Homo sapiens: one gene and its partners. The protein of the gene in region 1 interacts with the protein of each later gene in a pairwise test. Each region holds a gene or a part of one and is shown in the gene's direction. Other genes may lie near its edges. The genes, in order: CLDN19, MFF, CLRN1 and HSD17B13.

What was found.
Region 2: the proteins of CLDN19 (region 1) and MFF interact in binary tests that used the Homo sapiens proteins (3 or more experiments, as listed by UniProt).
Region 3: the proteins of CLDN19 (region 1) and CLRN1 interact in binary tests that used the Homo sapiens proteins (3 or more experiments, as listed by UniProt).
Region 4: the proteins of CLDN19 (region 1) and HSD17B13 interact in binary tests that used the Homo sapiens proteins (3 or more experiments, as listed by UniProt).

What each region holds. Positions count from the first base shown.
Region 1 is NC_000001.11:42,732,578-42,737,265, reverse strand, and holds the end of CLDN19 (claudin-19), read left to right. Parts: intron 1-1,235; coding exon 1,236-1,388; coding exon of another isoform or gene 1,389-1,504; exon of another isoform or gene 1,505-2,131; coding exon 2,132-2,180; 3' UTR 2,181-4,173; downstream 4,174-4,688. UniProt on the Homo sapiens protein: Forms paracellular channels: coassembles with CLDN16 into tight junction strands with cation-selective channels through the strands, conveying epithelial permeability in a process known as paracellular tight junction permeability.
Region 2 is NC_000002.12:227,320,571-227,328,250, forward strand, and holds the start of MFF (mitochondrial fission factor), read left to right. Parts: upstream 1-4,680; 5' UTR 4,681-4,857; exon of another isoform or gene 4,858-4,972; intron 4,973-6,941; exon of another isoform or gene 6,942-6,955; intron 6,956-7,680. UniProt on the Homo sapiens protein: Plays a role in mitochondrial and peroxisomal fission. Promotes the recruitment and association of the fission mediator dynamin-related protein 1 (DNM1L) to the mitochondrial surface.
Region 3 is NC_000003.12:150,969,720-150,976,871, reverse strand, and holds the start of CLRN1 (clarin-1), read left to right. Parts: upstream 1-4,144; 5' UTR 4,145-4,163; coding exon 4,164-4,416; intron 4,417-7,152. UniProt on the Homo sapiens protein: May have a role in the excitatory ribbon synapse junctions between hair cells and cochlear ganglion cells and presumably also in analogous synapses within the retina.
Region 4 is NC_000004.12:87,303,294-87,305,926, reverse strand, and holds the end of HSD17B13 (17-beta-hydroxysteroid dehydrogenase 13 isoform A precursor), read left to right. Parts: intron 1-618; coding exon 619-709; 3' UTR 710-2,133; downstream 2,134-2,633. UniProt on the Homo sapiens protein: Plays a pivotal role in hepatic lipid metabolism. In vitro, it catalyzes the oxidation of a variety of lipid substrates, including 17beta-estradiol, retinol, retinal, and leukotriene B4.

The sequences.
Region 1 (4,688 bases):
TCTGAGCAGAGAGTTTGGGGCAACAGGGAGGGAGCAGTGGAAAGCAGGCTGATATTCAGGAGATAACCAGGACTTGTAAGACTGTGGGCATGGGAACTGAAGGGGATGCTCTGCAAAGGGCCTGGGCCCACCTTGGCTCCTCCCTCACTTCTCAGCCTAGCCAGGAGCAGAGAATGGGACAGTCTTAACCCTAGACATCCCAATGGGCTTTGGGCCTTGGGGTGGAGAGAGGATGAGAAAAGATGTCTGGGCTTTTGCAATCGGGAGGGATGCCTGGAGGAGGCAGAGGTGTTGAGAGGCAAGGGGAGGGAGGAGATCTCAGGTACAAGGTTTGTTCCCTGGGTGGTGGCTGCAGCCACAAAGTCTGCCAAGCAAGGTCCAGCTCAGGCATGTCAGGATAGGACTCGGCCCCCGATCCCTTCAACAGTCCCCAATGCCACTTGGGCTGCCAGGCCCTGTGCTGGGTCCTGGGGACACTGATGGCTCTGTCTGCCCTCAAGGGGCTTCCCAGGGAGCCGGACAAGCAAGGGGCTGAGGCCTCCTGGAGAAAGCATGGTAGTGGAGTCGGCGCAAGGGGCGGGGTGAACACAGAGGATGTCAAGGAAAGACCCCACGAAGAGGTGGCATCTGAACTGGGCTCTGAAGGCAGAGAAGGAACAGGGGAGGCACAGGAGTGGTGGGCTGGGGGGCTTGGTGCCCCAGCTGGGGGTGCCTTGTGCAAAGGCACCAAGGCAGTGAGAACCAGGAGCAGGGCTGGCCTGGCCAGCAGGGTCTGGGTGTGGAGAGCCCAGAGTGCCAGGTGGAAGGGTCTGGCCTTCTCCAGAGGGCAGCGGGAGCAGTCTTGGCTGGGAGTTCTGTGGGCCAGAATGTGACTGGGAAAAAACATGGCAGGGATTGCCCCACTCCTCCCGTGCAGACCTCTCAGGCCCTCCCATGCCCCCTCCACTGGCCAGATCAGGAAATGAGCCCAAGGTTGCTCAGAGCAGGAGCTGGAGGCCCAGCCTCTAGCCTTCACGCCTACCCCAGGCCGGGTCACCCTGTGTGGTGTTGATATTCTGGGCTGGGGGGGAGGGAGAAAGGAAGAGCATTCACCTCAATTTATCTGGAGATATGGAAGAGGTTGTGAGGCTCCAGCCTCCAGCTCCACACACTCTGCCCTTCCTCTGCCAGGGCAGGGACTGGGAACAACCTGAGACGGCAGCCACACCTGATGCCACTCTCCCTACCCCTTGCAGGTATGAATTTGGCCCAGCCCTGTTCGTGGGCTGGGCCTCAGCTGGCCTGGCCGTGCTGGGCGGCTCCTTCCTCTGCTGCACATGCCCGGAGCCAGAGAGACCCAACAGCAGCCCACAGCCCTATCGGCCTGGACCCTCTGCTGCTGCCCGAGAGTACGTCTGAGCTCCGCCTGCCCTGGCCAGCCCCCCACCCAGTGGCCCCCTTGCCCAGCATCCAGCCAGCCTCGCAGCACCCTGGGCAGGGCCACTGGGGCATAGGATGGGCATAGGTGCTCTGAGCAGCTTGTCCTCAACACAAGCACCCACCCTGCAATCTGAGACCCAGATCCTCAGAGAGACACCAGAGGCAGGACCCAGCCCCCAGGCATACACACAGATGCAGGTCCAGGCACGGTCTTGTCTGCACAGCCTGGTGGGCACCAGCATGCATCCCTGGAGACAGGCCCTCAGGCACCAGCCCGGCTGTTTACTCACTGAAGAGCTGCTTGGGTGTCTGCTACGTGCTGGGCCCTAGAGATAGAGCAGTGGCCAAGACGTACCTTAGTACCCAGGTCCTTGGGGTGAGCAGAAACCTTCACCCTCCCCAGTCCCATGGGCTCCTCACAGCAACCCCACAAGGGCAGTGCCGGGATGCTGAACGTTCACACAAGGACAGGGAGGGTCTGAGTTTAGGTCTCAGGTTCTTCCAGTGCGCCCAGGGCTGGGGGCCACCTACACAGATGGTGAGGTCGGACCATGGCGCCCCTGCCCCCGGGAATGGGCCCCAGGCAGGGCTGCTGTGAGGGCCAAGGTCTGGCCACGCTGGCCAGTACCCATGTCCGGGCCTGAATGCACAGCCCCTGCCCCCGACCCCACAGCTCACTCCACTAACCAGCTCTCTCTCTTTTGACTTTCAGACCAGTTGTTAAATTGCCCGCCTCCGCCAAGGGCCCCCTGGGTGTGTAATGTCCAGTCCCCAGCCAGGCTCTGTCCCCTGCCATACCTAGACTGTGTGTTTCATATTTTTTTGGAAAGAGAAGTGAACATCCAGCCCCAATCATGGTATCATTCGGTCTGTCCTCAGCGTGGCTTGGACGGGGCCTGTGTCAGAGTGGTCAGTGCTGACCCCTGGGGCTCTTGGGCAGAAAGATGAGGAGACAGAGGTCCAGGGTGGGTTACATAGCACATCCAGGGCTAAGCAAGAAATAATTCAGAGGTCCTACCCTCTGTCTAGGGACCCCCCTCCCAAGCCTGGCCTTGGCCTTGGCACAAAGTCCTCCTTGATAGGAGATCCCACTCACTCCTGGAGGCTGCCCCTGAGGCTTGGCCCAGCTCTAGGAGCAGTCCCCAGGGTCAGGGAGCCCCTGGTGTGGAAAGAGGCCCCAAGGTAGTAAACCCTGCCCCTGTTACTGTGCTCCAGAGACCTCCTAAGGGAAGGGACAGTTCCTGGAAGGCCCTCCAGCTGGATGCTGGGGATCAGCGATAGGTGAGGGGACACAGTGTAGGAGCTCCCCATGTAGAAAAGGGAATGTGGGGAGGGCGTTAGGAGCTTGCAGGCATTAGGACTGTCCTGAGCAAGGTCTGCAGCCCCCAGCTCTGCTCACCCCGAATCCTGCCCCTTGTTTCCACACCTACCATTCCTCCTCTCCTGATCCCCAGCATCCAGCTGAGGTCCAAGGTCTTTGTCCTAGAATCAGAGTGGGGAGGGGACAGCCTGGGGCTGCCCAGAGACTGTGGGTGGAGCTGCCTGCTGCACTCAGCAGTGCGGTCAGAGAAGGGCTTTTGGTCTTGAAGTCCAGGTACCATCCCCCCTTAGCATACAGGGGGAAGGGCCTGAGAGGAATGTAAGGAAACCAGCCCAGATCAGTCCCAAGGCCAGAGTCCTTTGTCCTACATCTCCCTGAACCAGAGTGTGCCCTGCCCCTCATGCTCAGACCTCTCCCACCCCAAACCCTCTCCCGGGACTCAGTCTCCCTGGCCACTGCGTATCAGGCTTCTGGGGAAAGCATCCATCACAGAACCTCCCCTTCCCTGCCACGCACCTTCCTTGGCCAGCTCCATTCTGGCCTCCTCCACCACCTGCCTTGTGACCACATCTCCCACCACGTCCCCAGATCTCAAGAACGCAGCTCAGCTTCTCCTTCGAGCTTGACTCTGAGAGGGAAAGTGACGGAAACCAAGTCAGATGAGATGACTGCCATGTACACTGCAGTCAAGGGCAGGGAGGGGAGGAATGACACAAATGGCAGGGAGCTGCTGGGGGACTGACCCCTCGGCGCCTGGCCTGGCCGGTGCTGCACATCCACCGGGGCACAACAGGGACTTGTCCAGCCTCTGGTCAGAGGATGTGGCCACCTGACCCTAAATAGGTTCCCCAGAGTCCTGCCCCTCTAATGAATGAGAACTGCAGGAGTTTCTCCTCTGGGTGCCTGAAGCTATAGTGCAATGGTTCCCAACCCTGCATGCACATTCGAATCACCTGGGGGCACAATGCCTAGGCTCCAACCCCAGACACTCTTATTTCATTGGTCTGGGTGGACCTGGCATCAGAAGTCATGTAGCTCCTCAGGGGACTGTAGTGTGTGGTCAGCACTGAGGGCTCCTCTATGAGGCCTCAAGCCCAGGTGACTCTGTGAGGTCTGCAGAGGGAGAAAAGAACCCACAAGGGAAGAGGTGGAGGTCAGGCACGGTGGCTCACGCTTGTAATCCCAGCACTTTGGGAGGCCGAGGTGGGTAGATACCTGAAGTCAGGAGTTCGAGACTAGCCTGGCCAATATGGTAAAACCCCGTGTCTATTAAAAATACAAAAATTAGCTGGCTGTGGTGGTGGGCACCTGTAATCCCAGCTACTCGGGAGGCTGAGGCAGGAGAATCGCTTGAACTCGGGAGGTGGAGGTTGCAGTCAGCCAAGATCGTGCCACTGCACACCATCCTGGATGACAGAGCAAGACTCCATCACAAAAAAAAAAAAAAAAAAGAAAAGAAAAGAGGTGGGTAGCCGGGCGTGGCGGCTCATGCCTGTAATCCCAACACTTTGGGAGGCTGAGGTGGGTGGGTCACAAGGTCAGGAGTTCGAGACCAGCCTGGCCAACATGGTGAAACCCTGTCTCTATTTTTAAAAAATACAAAAATTAGCCGGCTGTGGTGGTGGGCACCTGTAATCCCAGCTACTCGGGAGGCTGAGGCAGGAGAATTGCTTGAACTCAGGAGGCGAAAGCTGCAGTGAGCCAAGATTGTGCCACTGCACTCCAGCCTGGGCAACAGAGCAAGACTCCATCTCAAAAAAGAAAGAAAGAAAAGAGGTGGGGAGAGGAAGCCCCACTCACTCCTGCCTTTCCCAATACCAGGCTGTTCTGTGACACGCCCACATCTTCCCAATCAATTCCCCTTTTGGCTGAAAAAACGTTGAGTTTGAATCCTGTCCCACACAGCCAGAAGAGCCCTACCTAACAGGATTTGGAACCTGGAAACTCA
Region 2 (7,680 bases), on another chromosome or scaffold:
TCTTTGGGCTGGTCGAGGCCAGAGCCGGCTCTCTCAGCTTGCAGGGAGGTGTGGGGGGAGAGGCGCAGGCAGGAACCAGGGCTGTGTGCAGTGCTCGCAGGCCAGCACGCGTTCCGTGTGGGTGCGGGCTTGGCAGGCCCCACGCTCAAAGTGGCCGGCCAGCACCGCTGGCCCCAGGCAGTGAGGGGCTTAGCACTCAGGCCAGCAGCTGCAGAGGGTGCGCCGGGTCCCCCAGCACTACCAGCCCACCTGCGCCACGCTTGGATTCTCACCGGGCCTCAGCCACCTCCCCACGGGGCAGGGCTCAGGACCTGCAGCTCACCATGCCCGAGCCACCCCCACCATGGGCTCCCTCACAGCCTGAGCCTCCCTGATGGGCACCGCCCCCTGCTCCACGGCGCCTGGTCCCATCGACCGCACAAGAGCTGAGGTGTGCATGTGCGCAGCACGGGACTGGAGGGCAGCTCTGCCCACAGCCCCAGCACAGGATCCACTAGGCAAAGCCAACTGGACTCTAGAGTCAGGTGGGGTCTTGGAGAACTTTTATGTCTAGCTGGAAGATTGTATATGCACCAATCAGCACTCTGTGTCTAGGTCGGGGTTTGTGGATGCACCAATCAGCACTCTGTATCTAGCTAATCTGGTGGGGACTTGGAGAACTTTTACGTCTAGCTAGAGGATTGTAAATGCACCAATCAGCACTCTGTGTCTAGCTCAAGGTTTGTAAACACACCAATCAGTGCTCTGTGTGTAGCTAAAGGTTTGTAAACGCACCAATCAGTGCTCTGTGTCTAGCTAATCCAGTGGGGACTTGGAGAACTTTTATGTCTAGCTAGACGATTGTAGATGCATCAATCAGCACTCTGTCTCTAGCTAAAGGTTTGTAAACATACCAATCAGTGCTCTGTGTCTAGCTAATCTAGTGGGGACTTGGAGAACTTTTATGTCTAGCTAGAGGATTGTAAATGCATCAATCAGCACTCTCTGTCTAGCTAAATGTTTGTAAACGCAACAATCAGTGCTCTGTGTCTAGTAATCTGGTGGGGACTTGGAGAACTTTTATGTCTAGCTGGAGGATTGTAAATGCACCAATCAGCACTCTGTGTCTAGCTCAGGGATTGTAAATGCACCAATCAGCACCCTGTCAAAATGGACCAATCAGCTTTCTGTAAAATGGACCAATCAGCTCTCTGTAAAATGGACCAATCAGCAGGATGTGGGTGGGGGCCAGATAAAGGAATAAAAGCAGGCTGACTGGGCCAGCAGCAGCAACCTGCTGGGGTCCCCTTTCATGTTGTAGAAGCTTTGTTCTTTTGCTCTTTGCAATAAATCTTGCTGCTGCTCACTCTTTGGGTCCACGCTGCCTTTATGAGCTGTAACACTCACCGCGAAGGTCTGCAGCTTCACTCCTGAAGCCAGCAAGACCACAAACCCACCAGGAGGGACAAATAACTCTGGACAGGAGGAATGAACAACTCCAGATGTGCTGCCTTTAAGAGCTGTAACAGTCACCGCAAAGGTCTGCAGCTCCACTCCTGAAGCCAGCAAGACCATGAGCCCACCAGAAGGAAGAAACTCCGGACACATCTGAACATCTGAAGAAACAAACTCCGGACACATGACACACCATCTTTAAGAACTGTAAGACTCACCGCAAGTATTCGCAGCTTCATTCTTGAAGTCGGCGAGACCAAGAACCCACCAATTCCGGACACAGAAGGAAGGAAAACAAAGGGGAAAGCAGATTCTCTACAGAATGTGGATTTTTCCCATAAGAGACTTTGCAGGACAATTTCAAGGTAGGGCAAGGAAAGATATTTTTGGGTAAAATATTTTTATTTTCTTCCTTATTATGCCAGAGTCAGATTGGAAAGTAAGTCATGATATACACGGTTAAATAAAACCCATCTGATGTGCATTTATGGTTTGGAGAACATGACTCCCCAAACCCCTTAGATAGGAATTTGAGCAAGATAAAAAAATCAGAGCTTAGTCCTCAGAACCAACCTAATGCATGATCTCCCAACTTGATCTCTATCTTCCCACAAAAGATTGACTTGGAATGACTTATTATTCCTAAAAATCAATCTATTCTTAAAGGCTTATTTGTCTCTGTAGGGTAGTTGTTAAGAGTTAAAGAAAGAAGAGAGAAACACAAAAAGTGGCTCAACAATCAAGGATAGGTTTATTTTAGAGAATAAACCTGAGAGGGGCTTCTGGCCAATTTTGGTCAGGAGCACTCTCTCTTACAGACTAAGAGTATTTAAGGGTTTAGGGTGAGAGAGCTTATCACAGGCTTGGAATATTTCTGCTTGGAGGAGAAGTTTATTACAGGGTTGGAATGTCTCTGGTTGGAGGGGAGGGGTTATCTTGGGGCTGACATCGCTCCGGTCAGAGGGAAGGTTATCTTGGGGCTGACATCGCTCGGTCAGAGGGAAGGTTATCTTGGGGCTGGCATGTGTCTGGTGGGAGAGGGGTTTATCTTAGAGTTAGAATGTTTCTGGTCGGAGGTGTCATTTGTGGTTTGTGGTCATGCTGACAGCCATTAGGCTGATGCCCTCTGGGTTGGATTTAGGTGGTTTTTGATCAAGGGGCACTTTAAAATGGCAGTGCTTCTGCTCTGTCAATAGTAGGATATGCCAACCCAAAATATGGCACTTTGGCATAAAGATTATTTTCGAGTCAAAGGCACTTAAAAAAAAAATGCAAAAAGAGCACTGTGGCTTTCCTTTTTCCTTCCTGAAAGCAGGAGATAAAACTTCCGTATGAAAGGTGCCCTCCCTGTATAAGGAGGAAGGGAGATGTTCTCAACACCAGAGACATGGAGTCAAAGCTGAGCTGTATCTGCACAAACTTACCGATTTTCATTTCCACTTTGTTACAACAACCTTTATCTTCTTAGTCACTTCTGCATTAACTGCACTAACCCAAATCTGTTTGTTTTCTCACATTTTCACAATTTACTACTCTTTTTAGCCTTCCCTAGAAAAATGGAGACTCAAAAGCACTTAGGGTCCAACTGTTAATTTGGGTCTCCATTTTTCTAGGGAAGGCTCCAATGTAAATGTAAAAATTACTAAATAAAATTTGTATGCTTTCCTCCTGTTATGTTTTATGTCTCTATTTTACGTCAGTGGAGACTAAGCTCTGATTTTTTTTTTAATCTTGCTCAAATTCCTATCTAAGGGGCCTAGGGATTCATGCCCTACAATCCATAAATTCTCATCAGATGGGTTTTATTTAACCCTATATATTGTGACTTACTTTCCAATCTGACACTGGCATAACGAGACAAGAAACAAAATCAAAATATTTTACCGCAAAACATTTTTTTTAGTTTTTGACATATCTTGAAACGGCTCTGCAAAGCTGTCCTTTGTTGGGGGAAAATCTGCATCTACATAGAATTTCTATTAACATAGCTAGATCATTTTCTTCCAGGTCCTCCCAATCCTAAAGAGATTACGTAAGAATCTAGCACCTTTTAAAGATCTGAATAGGAAACATTTGTCATCCATTGTCTCTAAGGGCAGCCACTATAAGACTTCAAAAGAACCTTGGTCTCCACAATCTTTTATTTTAACCTCAACATTTCCTTTCTATGGGTCCCAGGTCTTCAACTGTCAACCAGAAAATGTTTAAATTTACCTACAGCCTTGGAAGCCCCTGCTTTGAGTTGTCCCACCTTTCTGAACCAAACCAATGTAGTTCTTAAATTTATTTGATTGATGTCTCATGCCTCCCTAAAATACATAAAACCAAGCTGCGCCCCAACCACCTTGGACACATGTTCTCAGGACCTCCTGAGGGCTCTGTCACGGGCCATGGTCACTCACATTTGGCTCAGAATAAATCTCTTCAAATATTTTAGAGTTTGACTCTTTTCCTCATCAGTTTAATTCTTAGGCCCAGCCAAGACCCCAAGAGGGGAGAGGAAATATTTTCACTTTCCCTACACCAGTGTTAAGAAGCCCAAGAACGCAATTCAGAGGGCTTCCCAAATCATTTTGAAGAATGGTAACATCTCTAGAATATCAATTAGATCGTAGGGGAGTACATAAGTCATGTGTACACCTTTAGGTGTTTGTGAAAACCAAGGCATATAAAATATCACATTATTTGGCCTCAGTACATTCCCATACTGACAAGCACTGTACCATTTTTCCCCCGCTCTAAGCAAGGGCTTCCTGGGGGGAAGAGTCTGTGGTTGGGTGTTCAGAAGCAGAGAGTGCTCTCCCAAAGCTAAACGATGCCGCCAACTACTGTGAAACTTAACTTCCCCTCTCCCGGAATTCTCATGGAAGACAAGGTCTGATCAACCGAGGGCTTAAGAAGTATCAAATTGGAACTCATGGAATCACTGGCGGAGCTGATTTACATATGAGAATTCCTAAGCCTCACAGCATAGAAATTTTCATGCCAGATGGTCCTGAAAAAGTTGTTTTAATTGGCTACCAAAGGTTTACCTTGCAAACACCAAGTTCTTAAAGATTACAAAATCTAATAAAGCCGAAGTGTGAATTAAACTTAACCGCAAGAGGAGTCACCTGCGGTCACCTCGTTTCGCCCACAACAAAGATGTCTGCGCATCGCTTACCGTGGAGCCGTTCCAGTGCGTGGGCCACGCGTCCGCCCTTTTCCGCGTCACATGACCACGAACACTCTTCCGCTACGGCTCCCAGAAGGGGCCAGCCCGCGCCTTTCGCGCTTCTGCCCTGGCCCTCTGCGGGCCGCTCCGCCGGTGCTGTCCCTGGGCGCCTCCGTGCTCTCAGCCAACCACCTCTGAGAGCGCCCACTCGAGCGCCCCGGGAGCCAGAGGGCGGGGGTCCTCGCCGGGACCCTCCTGTGGGCCCAGGGGTGAGTGTTGACGTCTTCCCGACCCGCGACCTGCCGCCCGAGCTGGCTGCCAGGCCTATCGCCGCCGCCGAGACCCTCCGGCCAACAGGGACCCGCGGTGGCCCCGGCCCCCCCGGTAGTGTCTCCCTGACCCGAGTCCCGTCCCCGGGCCTCTTGCCTTCAACCCTGGTCTTTCCTCCTCCCCGGGACCTTGAGTCCCCGAGGAGAGCGAGGGAGAGGAGCGTCTTCTGCAGGTGTTTTTGGGCGAACCTCTTCACCTTGTGTGGTTCGGCGTCTCCTTTTGTGTATTAACCCGGACTTTTCCGACTGGAAAATAGGGGTTTGGGAAGCAGCGGGAGTCCCGTGAGCGTGAACGCCGGGCTTTGCAGGTCTTCACTCATCCTTCCCTGCCAAGGCCCTGACACCTTACAGGCTGACCTTAAACCTGCCTTGTTTAAAAGGAGGTTTTTGTGTTGTTTTGTGGCAAGTACATTTTGGAAAAGAAGGGCCTTGTTGGAAGCCCAGGTTGTGGCATCGCGGGTGGCTGCGGGCCACCCTGTCCGTCTGTGAGCATCCCTGCTCGCAGATGTGGCTGCAGGCAGTTGCTCTCGGGTTTCCTTCCAGGAGCTGGGAAGCCGGAGGAAAGCTGCGGTTCCTGTTCCGCCGAGCTTCTGACCTTCCTCTGCAGGACGTGTGCTACTATTACTATCGTAAAAGAACACCCCTGTCTACCTCCCACAAAGTTAGAAGCAAAGGGCATTCTCGAGGGAAGAGCACCCTTTCAAAAGTGACATGTTTTCATTGGAGAACATTAAAGGGGAAAAAAAAAAAAAAGGTTTCTGGCCCTTCTGCCCAAATATAGAACCATTTGTATTCAGGCCTCTCATCCACCGAGAGACTTAAGATGATCACAAATGTTTTGTCTCCCTGCGTGAAAAACATTTTTTCTGCCTCAATTCCGTTGGCTAATGAGAGCCCAAAAGAAAAACCCTTAGGAAAATTAGGACGATTTAGTTATACTTAGTAGTCTTTTCCCATGCAATTAAATTGCTTGGGGGACCTTCTATCTTTTGGTTTCAAAGGCTTGTATATTGGTTTTGCCATTTTTTCCAAAAGGAAATTGTGTTCTCTCCCTTCCTGTCTGATAGAGCTGCCTCCTTTCAGAATTGCAAAGTTTAGTCTTCGCTCTCCTCTCTTCTGGTATTGAAACTTTTCTGTGGGTTCATAACCTTATTTTAAAGTTCATTAATATATAGTTTTAAAAGTTTGCAGTGACTTTTTAAATATAGTTTCTTTGAAAAAGAACTGAAACAGGGTGTGCAGAGTGGCCCATCTGTGTGAACTAGGTCCACGCAGTAGGTAATAAACAACTGGAGGGTTTTTTTTGGTTTGTTTTTGTTTGTTTGTATGTTTGTTTTTGAAAAGTACATAAACATTTGCAACCACAGTCAGTTTGACTCAAGTTGTTTCGGTGACTTCCGAGGCTTTCTGGGTTCCAGTGTTCTAATACAGAAAATGAGAAAGTTGGGCTGGAATCATTGTGTCCCAAAATTGGTACACTTTCCGCTAGTGGCATGTGACTTGACTCTAGGCGGTACGTGGATGAGGATTTTTTTGTAATAGGATGTTTTTGCAATCTGTATTTATATATGTACAGCCATGGTTTAAGGTAGTGATACAAAATTTTCTTTTACAATACTTTTTTGATTTTAAAAAGTCGAGTTAAAAAAATTAACTGTAGCAAAAAGTTAATGTACTCTGTGAATATGGGAAAAAAAAAACCCATGAAGTTGGCAAGTTAGTTACTGGTGTTTGGGAACCACTGGGCTTAGAAAGTAGAAATATGAAATCATCTGTGATTCTAAGAGAGATTTTGCCTCGTTTGTTATGTAACAGAATCACGTACTGGTTGCCTACTGGATTCTAAGGTACAAAACTTCTGGAATTAACATATCAACACCAAATGAGACGTTTATTTATTGCCAAAAGATATTATCAGAAATGCCACAGTCTAACGAGGGAGAAAAAAAATCAGATTTTGATTGGTTTTAAGCAGAAAACCCAATAATTGGGATAATACAGTGTTAAATCTTAGTAGAAATCCAGTTACTTTTTAAATGTAAGTAGTTCAGCTACAGGAGAACTTGGCTTTTTCCAGAAGTTGGCATTTCAGCATCCACCTTTATTTTCTAAGTCACTAGTTTTTTACAAACTCAGATATTCTCGTAAGAAAAGATGTTGCTATAGAATGGAATATAGTAGTGAGACCTATGAGATGTACTACTAGAAAGTTCGTAAGACTGAAATGCAATGAATGGAATGCAGAGAAAGCACATTTCAAGGAGATACTGAGGTTCTAGCCACTTGGTTCTCGTTTATTATTATAAAACTTCAATTTATAATGGCCAAAGGCTATAATCTTTTTGAGGTAGCTTTTTTCAGTGTTAGTTCTGAATATGAGCTTTTGCTATGCTTGAGATACACGCAAGTATTAGAAGAGCATCTCATCTGGAATGATGCACAAAAATTGATTATAAAGGTTGCCTGTGGGAACCTGGGTGGTTAAGGATAGGATTGAAAGTGGGACACTTCCTTTTCTCTGTATAGCTTGCGTACTTTGTACCGAGTACATGCATTACTAGTTCAAAATTTTAACATCGTAAGTGAATGAAAATTTAAACAGGCCGGGCACGGTGGCTCACACCTGTAGTCCCAGCACTTTAGGAGACGAAGGCCAGAGGATTTCTTGAGCCTAGGAGTTTGAGATCAGCCTGAACAACATAATAAGACCCTGTCTCAACAAAAAATACAAAAATTAGCTGGGTGTGGTGGCATATGCCTGTA
Region 3 (7,152 bases), on another chromosome or scaffold:
GTGACAACTCCTTGATCACCCACCCTCCCAGTATAGCAGCTCGATTTTTGTCTTATTTCACACAAGTTGTGTTGAGGCAATGGTTTTTCTTCTTAAAAATGATTTGAGAATCACCTATGCAGCCCAGACCACTCTTTTCATAAATATGTAAAATTAATGCCAGAGAAGGAATTCTTAATTTAGCCATACAGCTGGAAATAGACCCTGGACAGGATCTTCCCATGCCATGCTATACTGTCTCTTATACTTGGCGAACAAACCAGGTGAGAATTTGCATCCCTTTGTAATGGGGCTGCTTTTTTTCTTTTGTTTTCAAATGGTTATAAGGAAAAACTGATGCAGCCAAGTTAGTGTGAGAAGAGGCACAAATGCTACACTGGAAGTGAAAACAGAGTCTGCAATTGTGCTCCTTTCTCTACAGAATCTCTAGTCACTCTGAAGAATTATATCATTATCCAGCACCTGAAAGGGGTCAGAGGAGGGGGAGGCCTAGTTCCATTTTCTTATGTCACCGAATGTATTCCTATTAAGATTGAGAGAAGTAAAGATTTCAGCAGGATACTTGGTGAAAACTTGCTGACATTAATGACTCAAATTCTCAGAGAGACTGCAAGGAAAATGGTGTCATCACTGTCATTCAAGACATTTAAGATGAAATTTCAAAAGAAGGCTGTCAGGCATAATGACTGCCAGGTTCCATTATATCATTCTCAGAGGGTGGATCACACACACTACTACGCAGCCTGTGGGTGGCTGATGCTGAAGTTTGAAAGGAAGCTGCATGGAGAAGAGGTGAGGGGGGCTGCCTCACATGAACAGGATACAGCACCATTGATATTCATATGGTGATTTGGGGGTAAATCTATGAATCGGGGCCTGGTCTTTTGTTGTGGATATGCTGAAACCTAGTGCTGAAAAAATGTAGGAAAGTTTGAGCTGTAAATGGTAGTGCCTATTTATTAATTTGCTATGAGCATATTCCTCTCTAGCGACCCAGATGCTCATGTCTGTGTGCATTCCAGCACTGAGATGCCTGCAAAGCCTAGTTTGTAATCAGTAGATAGCCATGTGAAAAGGAGATAAGGGCAGTGGCTTCCAACCTTGGCTGCACAATGCAATCACCTGGGGTGATTCGACGCTAAGGCCATACTCTAAAATCAAATAAATCTGAATCTCAGGGATGAGGACACAGACATCAGTACTTTTAAAATCTTCTCAAGTGATTCTAATGAGCAGCAAAACTGAGAACCACCGTGTCAAAGCAAAGGGTGAGGTTTTAGGCCTCAAAGGGTGAGTCTCACCCTTTCCACTCAGGGATCTTTTATGTCATAGAGCAGTGGGTTTGATTTGGTTTTGTTTTAAATCAGGAGTAGACATAGGTTTGCCAGTTTCTAAATTTGTCAAATAAAATCATTAAAAATTCAACTACCATTATCTCATTAAAGAAAGAAAATTTCAACAATAAAAATTAGGAAGGGCCTAACTTCAGGATATAAGAGTAACTCAGTATGTTGTATTTATTTTTCCCATGTCTCTACAGACGAGTGAACATGTCGCTACAGACTGATGCAAACTGATGCAACTGATGTGATCTAATTGCTCTCTACACCCATAATCAAGGCTTTCCTCCTTGGACAGCTTTAGATATACTTGGCTGAGTTTGGGTTAATTAAACCGCTGTCCTATGCTAACTATCCTTCTCTTGCCATATCCTTTAGTAGAGGTTATTAATAGTATTGATTAAGTTGTAGGTGATTTCTTCTCCCAGGCTTTGGAAATGTTCTGTCTCTTCCAATTACAGAATATGTTGATTTAGTAAGCTCAGCTCTGCTTAGACATCTTAAACTAAGTTTTCTAGGGTGACTGTGGCACATATATGCCCAAATAACCACTTATCAGGGGCACTGGCACCCCCTTGTTTTGCTAGTGGACCATGATAGCGATTATTCTAAATCCAGTGGTGAATTCATTGGAGGGCCAAATAAACTGAGATGAGTTGCTTATTCTGTGTTCTAGCAATTATTCTAAATCCAGTGGTGAATTCATTGGAAGGCCAAATAAACTGGGATGAGTTGCTTATTCTGTGTTAAGTTATACAAAATAAAAAAGACTTACTAATATTGTAAACTTTATTTTAAGTGCCTCTTTGGAATCTTCTATATGCCCAGTTCTTCTGTGGCCATGTTTTATATTGCCCCTCTTCTCCCCGAAGGTACATTGGCATTCTAGAATGAGTTCTATACTTAGTTGTCTGTCCTTAACGAGACTGGCTGTTGCGACTCCTAGGAGAGGCGAGCTGTGAGAGAAGTTTACCAGTACTCCGAGTCTATACCTCAAAGTTCCCTTCGAAGTGTGCATAATGTAGAGACTCATTTATGCTGAAAATGGTGTGAAATAAGTCTTCATTTATTAATTTCCTCTAAGCTGTCATGCTTAAAGGTGGATCAAAAGAATAGAAGCTAGCATACACATGTGCTTTTGGCCAACTGAAAAAGTTCTATTTACTGATGTCTGTGTTCTTCAAACACTCAATATGTGTAACTAATAATGGGCTAGTCTGCCCCTGTTACTCCTAGACGAACCCAACCCAAACTGAAATGTTTGCCATCTTTTCAAGGTCAGGGGCTTTGCTTGGAATAGAACATCAACCTCAGAAGTAGAAGACCTGGATTTGAATCCCAGCTCCACTACTCTCTTCAGCAAGTTGCTTAAACTCTCTGAGCCTCAATTCCCTTATATATAAGATACGAATAATTGCTTTTTCTTCTTCTTTCTTCTTTCTTATTCTTCTTCCTTCTTCCTTTCTCCTCCTCCTCCTCCTTCTTCTCCTCCTCCCTCCTCTTCTTCTTCCTCTTCTTCATTACTTTATATGCTAATTATGAGAATTACATATGATAATTTAGGTAGAATACTTCACAAGTTGCCAGACATAAGTTCTTACTAAACATTAACTTTGTAGGTCAGAGCTCAGGACAATAACATGGCATATAATAAACATTCACTAGACACTTCACACACACACACACACACACACACACACACACACACACACACACAGTCCTGTGTCTGTAGAAGGAGGAATCTCATTGGAAATGCAAAGTTAAAAAGCTGTTACTGAATTCTGAACTTTAGTTTCCAGGTCTTGACCGTTTAACCAGACCTACCTGCTGCTTAATCTTTGCTCATAACTGTCTCTAGTCTCCCAAACAGATTACCTTTGCTGAGACCTGTGCATTTTTATGATGAATCCATAGAGTCACCTATCTGACCACCATCCCTCTTTCCATCAATATGCCCTTATCTTTACAGATCCTGGTATTCCTTGGACCCAGAAACACATTCCCTTGCTATTATCCTAAAGCAGCTAAGCCTGTTAAAGGAAAGCATTTAGAAATCTAGATATCTGCTCCTGCATTTTCATATTTCTGTATGCCAAGAAAAATTTGAATCAAATTCTCTATTGATACATTAGGTATAAACCATGGATCTGGGAGAAATTAAGTTGGAAGGACAAGGACCCATGGTTGATCCAGAGCACTTAATATTCGTGTAGGACCAAATTCTGTTTAATATTTTTATCCTGCTGTAATTAAAAATTTTTGACATCAACTATCAATACAGGTACATATGTTCTCCCTACCTCTGCTAAAGCTCCTTCCCCCACCACCAAAAACAATAACAAACAAAAAACAAAAATAAAAACATCGATAAGTGAACTTCTCAAGTTGCTGAAAATGTACCATCAGATTCAAGCCTGTTTCTGAAAGTTTCAACTCACCCAATCAGACAAAAGGCTGAGGAAGGGAAACATTTATCAAGTTACACTGAGGACTCCATCTGTTATCTTCGACCTTTGTTACCAAGTGACACAGAGGAGATACTTGAAGGCAGTTTGAAAGACTTGTTTTACAGATTCTTAGTCCAAAGATTTCCAATTAGGGAGAAGAAGCAGCAGAAAAGGAGAAAAGCCAAGTATGAGTGATGATGAGGCCTTCATCTACTGACATTTAACCTGGCGAGAACCGTCGATGGTGAAGTTGCCTTTTCAGCTGGGAGCTGTCCGTTCAGCTTCCGTAATAAATGCAGTCAAAGAGGCAGTCCCTTCCCATTGCTCACAAAGGTCTTGTTTTTGAACCTCGCCCTCACAGAAGCCGTTTCTCATCATGCCAAGCCAACAGAAGAAAATCATTTTTTGCATGGCCGGAGTGTTCAGTTTTGCATGTGCCCTCGGAGTTGTGACAGCCTTGGGGACACCGTTGTGGATCAAAGCCACTGTCCTCTGCAAAACGGGAGCTCTGCTCGTCAATGCCTCAGGGCAGGAGCTGGACAAGTTTATGGGTGAAATGCAGTACGGGCTTTTCCACGGAGAGGGTGTGAGGCAGTGTGGGTTGGGAGCAAGGCCCTTTCGGTTCTCATGTAAGTAGCAATTGCATTTGAGTTATTTAATGCTTTAGGCAGACTCTTCCCAGTGTTGCGAGGAATTATATTTGAGAATTTTGCCGTGTTTACTGCAGGACTTTTTAAATCGGTGTGAACCATATGAAAAACCTATGACTCTGAGCAATTTCTTCTTCCTAGTTTTTATTATTTTATACTTGCTTTTTATTATAATATAGAGTTAATTCATTGTTACATAATTAAGGTTTTTGGAAATATTGGCAATTAAGATGCTTAAGTATTAATATTTATGTAAAAAATTATGGAGTCTTTTTAAAAAAGTAAACTTGGGGAAATAGGAAAGCTGTAAAGAATGATCTTTATGCTTTTTGTTCTTTATAAAAAGAACCAAGGTCATGGGCTCCGTATTTAACCAGGTTGCCACCTTTCTCATGATTTTGTTTCCTGCTCCCCACTCCCTCCCATTATTCCTGCTAAGACCTTTCCTGCTGCTAAATATTCAGTTTTCATTTTTAACTAATTTGGAATCATTTGGCTATAGAAATTTAAAATGATCTGCTGTGCTAACTGGGAAAGAAATGGATGCCTATTTAGTATAGAACATTTTAAACTGATTGACCTGCAAATCATGTAGAGAATATGAGAGAGATTTTCTTGTTGTGATTTTTGTGAAATGGAAGTGTAATCCACAGTATTTATAACCTGTTTATCTTAAGAAGAGAATTTTTAAAAATTACCATGTGAATAGGCAACTCATTAAATGAAAATTAATAGGAAGTCATTTGTTATATCTCTTACAACACACATTCAGAAGTTATTATTATTTCAGAAGGGCTGGTTTGGAACAACCTTATGAAGACACAGTCAGTAAATTACTGCATAAATCACTCTTCAGGAAAGGAGGTTACCAACTGAAGCATTTAAAATGAATTATTATTTTGCCCAGGTTTTTTTTTTCTTTCTAGTATAGGTAGAAGGCTAAATTAATTGAATTTATTATTAACATATGCAGTGCCTAATTAAATTTCAGTGCTGGTCTATTTATATTTCTGCAACATTCCTTATATCTTCTTAGCAGTCATTGGACACCAACCTTCAGCTCACATAGGTTACTAAGTGATATGAATTTTCATAGGGCTCCAGAAAATTTCCAAGAATTGGTTGTTAGCTTTTTAATTGATGAAGTGGATACCAGTTCTTTTCACTGAATGGCTTTTATTCATTAAGGTAATGGGGCTGTTAGAGTTGCTTAGTTTTCCTGGGGAAGGGGAAGGAAGAAAACAAAGCAGAATGTCATGTGATATGCAACTGTATTAAAAAACCGAAAAGGAAAAAAGTTGAGAGAGATGATTTAACCGTGAGTCACCGGCAGCCAAAGCGTGAGTAAAGCTTCTCACAGATGAATTTAGACAAAAGCGGAGAAGGTACTGGTGAATTTTCTGGAGCCTTTACATTTTCTACAGTGAAATGGAGATAAACTTTACTCATGCCATAGGACATGTTTCAAAACAATAATAAGATGTTTTCTGAACACTTACTACATACTAAGCACTTTATATGCTTTGTCTCATTTAATCCTTACACAGCCACATTCTTCTGGGGTTTAGCGAATGATTTTTGTGGTTGTGTCCTATGCTTGTCCTGTCTAAGGATGAAGTTGTTCTAATTGGGTGCCCCTCCTTTTGCTTTCTGTGAGGACTTGCAGAACTGGTGGGGTTTAAACAGTACCCTCACTTATCTCACAGAATTTCATTAGCTCCCAGATACCCCTGACATTCTCCCCCTAGCCTAGTGAAGAAAATCTTCCATTTACTTGTTCATTCTGCAGTGACAGCTCCATCAATATACAATAGACTATACATATTAAGTGTACTGTATATACTATACATGTTAAAAATCTCATTCATTTTGGTGAGGCCCAGCTAAGAATACTTACAGTAGAGCTTTTTTTTTTTTCCTAAGCATAAAAGTATCTTTTTCAATGCAGCATGAGACAGAGTTGGGAAAACCAAAATAAATAGATCCAATGGACTCCCCAAAGAGGATAATATTCATTTAAATAAACACCCCTCTCAGTGTTAAAACTTTCTAATCAACATGCCTTTGGGACACATTGCACCCTCAAAGTTTACACTCCCATTGCAACGCAGCTTTGTGGTTCACGTTTTTTCCATTCAGAATGTCATTACCCTGTCAATGATGTTTCATCAACGTTTGCTTGGATGAGAATCCTCTGATATTCTTCCTGATAGAAATGTATAAGCCCTGTTCATATAAATGAATAAAAGATCTAACCTTACTTTCTCAGTAGTGGCTTCCTTGGAGCAAAAAGCAGGGACCTCCAGAGAGCTCAGGTGGATGACTCTTTTCTGTTTCTTCCAGAGCTCAACTTACAATTAGTGCACAATTCATTTCCCAGAATGTCTTCTTTCTTATTGTGCCTTTAGAAAGTTATTAAGCAAACATTTGAATTCACAGAATCTTACCAGTGTAAGAGGAATGGAAAAGGTAACTTATCAAGGTAACAATCACTTCGTGGCCAGTTTTTTCGGCTCACTGCAACTACCCCTCCTGGGTTCAAGCGATTCTCCTGCCTCAGCCTCCCAAGTAGCTGGGACTACAGGCGTGCACCACCATGCCCAGCTAATTTTTTTTTTGTATTTTTAGTAAAGACAGGGTTTCACCATGTGGGCCAGGCTGGTCTCATGGCAAGTTTTCTTTGTGTTGTCATGTTATTATCAATTAATAGGAATT
Region 4 (2,633 bases), on another chromosome or scaffold:
TCCGCTGCAAGACGTTAATAAAGTTACTGTTTTGCAGGCTAGAATGTCTTGATGCTGTAATCAGAACACACTTTTTCCCCTTTCTTCCAGCTTCAAATGCAGATTCATAATTGGGCTGACTTCTAATAACTGCAATGTTTTCTGCCTTGGGCTTGCAGCAGAAGCCTGACAAAATAGTGTTTGTTTAGGCAATAATTTATTTATTTATTTATTGAGATGGAGTTTCATTCTTGTCGCCCAGGCTGGAGTGCAATGGCGTGATCTCGGCTCACTGCAACCTCTGTGTTCAGGCAATAATTTAGACTTTACCTTACTTGTGATTACTATAGCAATTACTATAGCCACAAGGCATAATTTTACTGTCTCATTTCAATTTTATGAATTTGAATGTTTTTACACTTTTCCTAATGAAGTCCACTATGAAGTTATGTCAAAAAAAAAAAAGAAAAAGAAAGATGCACACGTAAAAGAGAGGTGGTTGCAAGAGAAGAAAAGAACGGAGGAAAGTTAAACGCAAACCAGATAACTCTCAGCGTATTCTAAATGACCAAAAACAGAACTCTGTTGTCAAAGATTTTAAATGGAAAATTTTTCAATTTTTTTTTCTTTTTTGTACAGGTTTCTTCCTGAACGCGCCTCAGCGATTTTAAATCGTATGCAGAATATTCAATTTGAAGCAGTGGTTGGCCACAAAATCAAAATGAAATGAATAAATAAGCTCCAGCCAGAGATGTATGCATGATAATGATATGAATAGTTTCGAATCAATGCTGCAAAGCTTTATTTCACATTTTTTCAGTCCTGATAATATTAAAAACATTGGTTTGGCACTAGCAGCAGTCAAACGAACAAGATTAATTACCTGTCTTCCTGTTTCTCAAGAATATTTACGTAGTTTTTCATAGGTCTGTTTTTCCTTTCATGCCTCTTAAAAACTTCTGTGCTTACATAAACATACTTAAAAGGTTTTCTTTAAGATATTTTATTTTTCCATTTAAAGGTGGACAAAAGCTACCTCCCTAAAAGTAAATACAAAGAGAACTTATTTACACAGGGAAGGTTTAAGACTGTTCAAGTAGCATTCCAATCTGTAGCCATGCCACAGAATATCAACAAGAACACAGAATGAGTGCACAGCTAAGAGATCAAGTTTCAGCAGGCAGCTTTATCTCAACCTGGACATATTTTAAGATTCAGCATTTGAAAGATTTCCCTAGCCTCTTCCTTTTTCATTAGCCCAAAACGGTGCAACTCTATTCTGGACTTTATTACTTGATTCTGTCTTCTGTATAACTCTGAAGTCCACCAAAAGTGGACCCTCTATATTTCCTCCCTTTTTATAGTCTTATAAGATACATTATGAAAGGTGACCGACTCTATTTTAAATCTCAGAATTTTAAGTTCTAGCCCCATGATAACCTTTTTCTTTGTAATTTATGCTTTCATATATCCTTGGTCCCAGAGATGTTTAGACAATTTTAGGCTCAAAAATTAAAGCTAACACAGGAAAAGGAACTGTACTGGCTATTACATAAGAAACAATGGACCCAAGAGAAGAAAAGGAAGAAAGAAAGGTTTTTTGGTTTTTGTTTTGTTTTGTTTTGTTTTTTGTTTTTTTGAGATGGAGTCTCACTCTTTCGCCCAGGCTGGAGTGCAGTGGTATGATCTCAGCTCACTGCAAGCTCCACCTCCCGGGTTCACGCCATTCTCCTGCCTCAGCCTCCTGAGTAGCTGGGACTACAGGCGCCCGCCACCACACCCGGCTAATTTTTTGTATTTTTTGTAGAGACGGGGTTTCACCATGTTAGCCAAGATGGTCTCGATCTCCTGACCTCGTGATCCACCTGCCTCGGCCTCCCAAAGTGCTGGGATTACGGGTGTGAGCCACCGTGCCCAGCCTTTTTTTTTTTAATAGAAAAAATAATCCGACTCCCACTACATCAAGACTAATCTTGTTTTGTGTGTTTTTCACATGTATTATAGAATGCTTTTGCATGGACTATCCTCTTGTTTTTATTAAAAACAAATGATTTTTTTAAAAGTCACAAAAACAATTCACTAAAAATAAATATGTCATTGTGCTTTAAAAAAATAACCTCTTGTAGTTATAAAATAAAACGTTTGACTTCTAAACTCTGTCTCTATGAGTGTCCTTCAAGAACCAAGGATGTGGATGGTAACAGCTACATCTGGCAGTTATTAAATGAATCCAGGGGTTTTCTCAACTCTGGTTTCTTTGACAGCAGGAGTGCTGGTTTATCAACTGGAACTTACTGACCCCTTTCTATGTGTGAGATTAAGCACAGTGCTATTGTTTCTAATTTTTTTTCTTAGTCACCGGCAATAATTTTTTTCATAACATTCTTTTAATTTCTTGCCTTATAATCAAGAAATTTATGAGTAAAATGTATTATTTTTAAAGTATGGTTACAAAAATTCAAAAGAGAAACATGGAAAGTAAAAAATAGAAGCTTACCCCCAGCAATCCCATTTCCCAGAGGTCACACTGTCAATGCACAATCTTCCAGTCTTTTACTGATGCATGTTCATGACAAATACATTATATTCTTATTGCATGGGTCGTATCAGTAGTTTCATACCATACATTATGTTCTGTAACTTGCTCTTTTAGC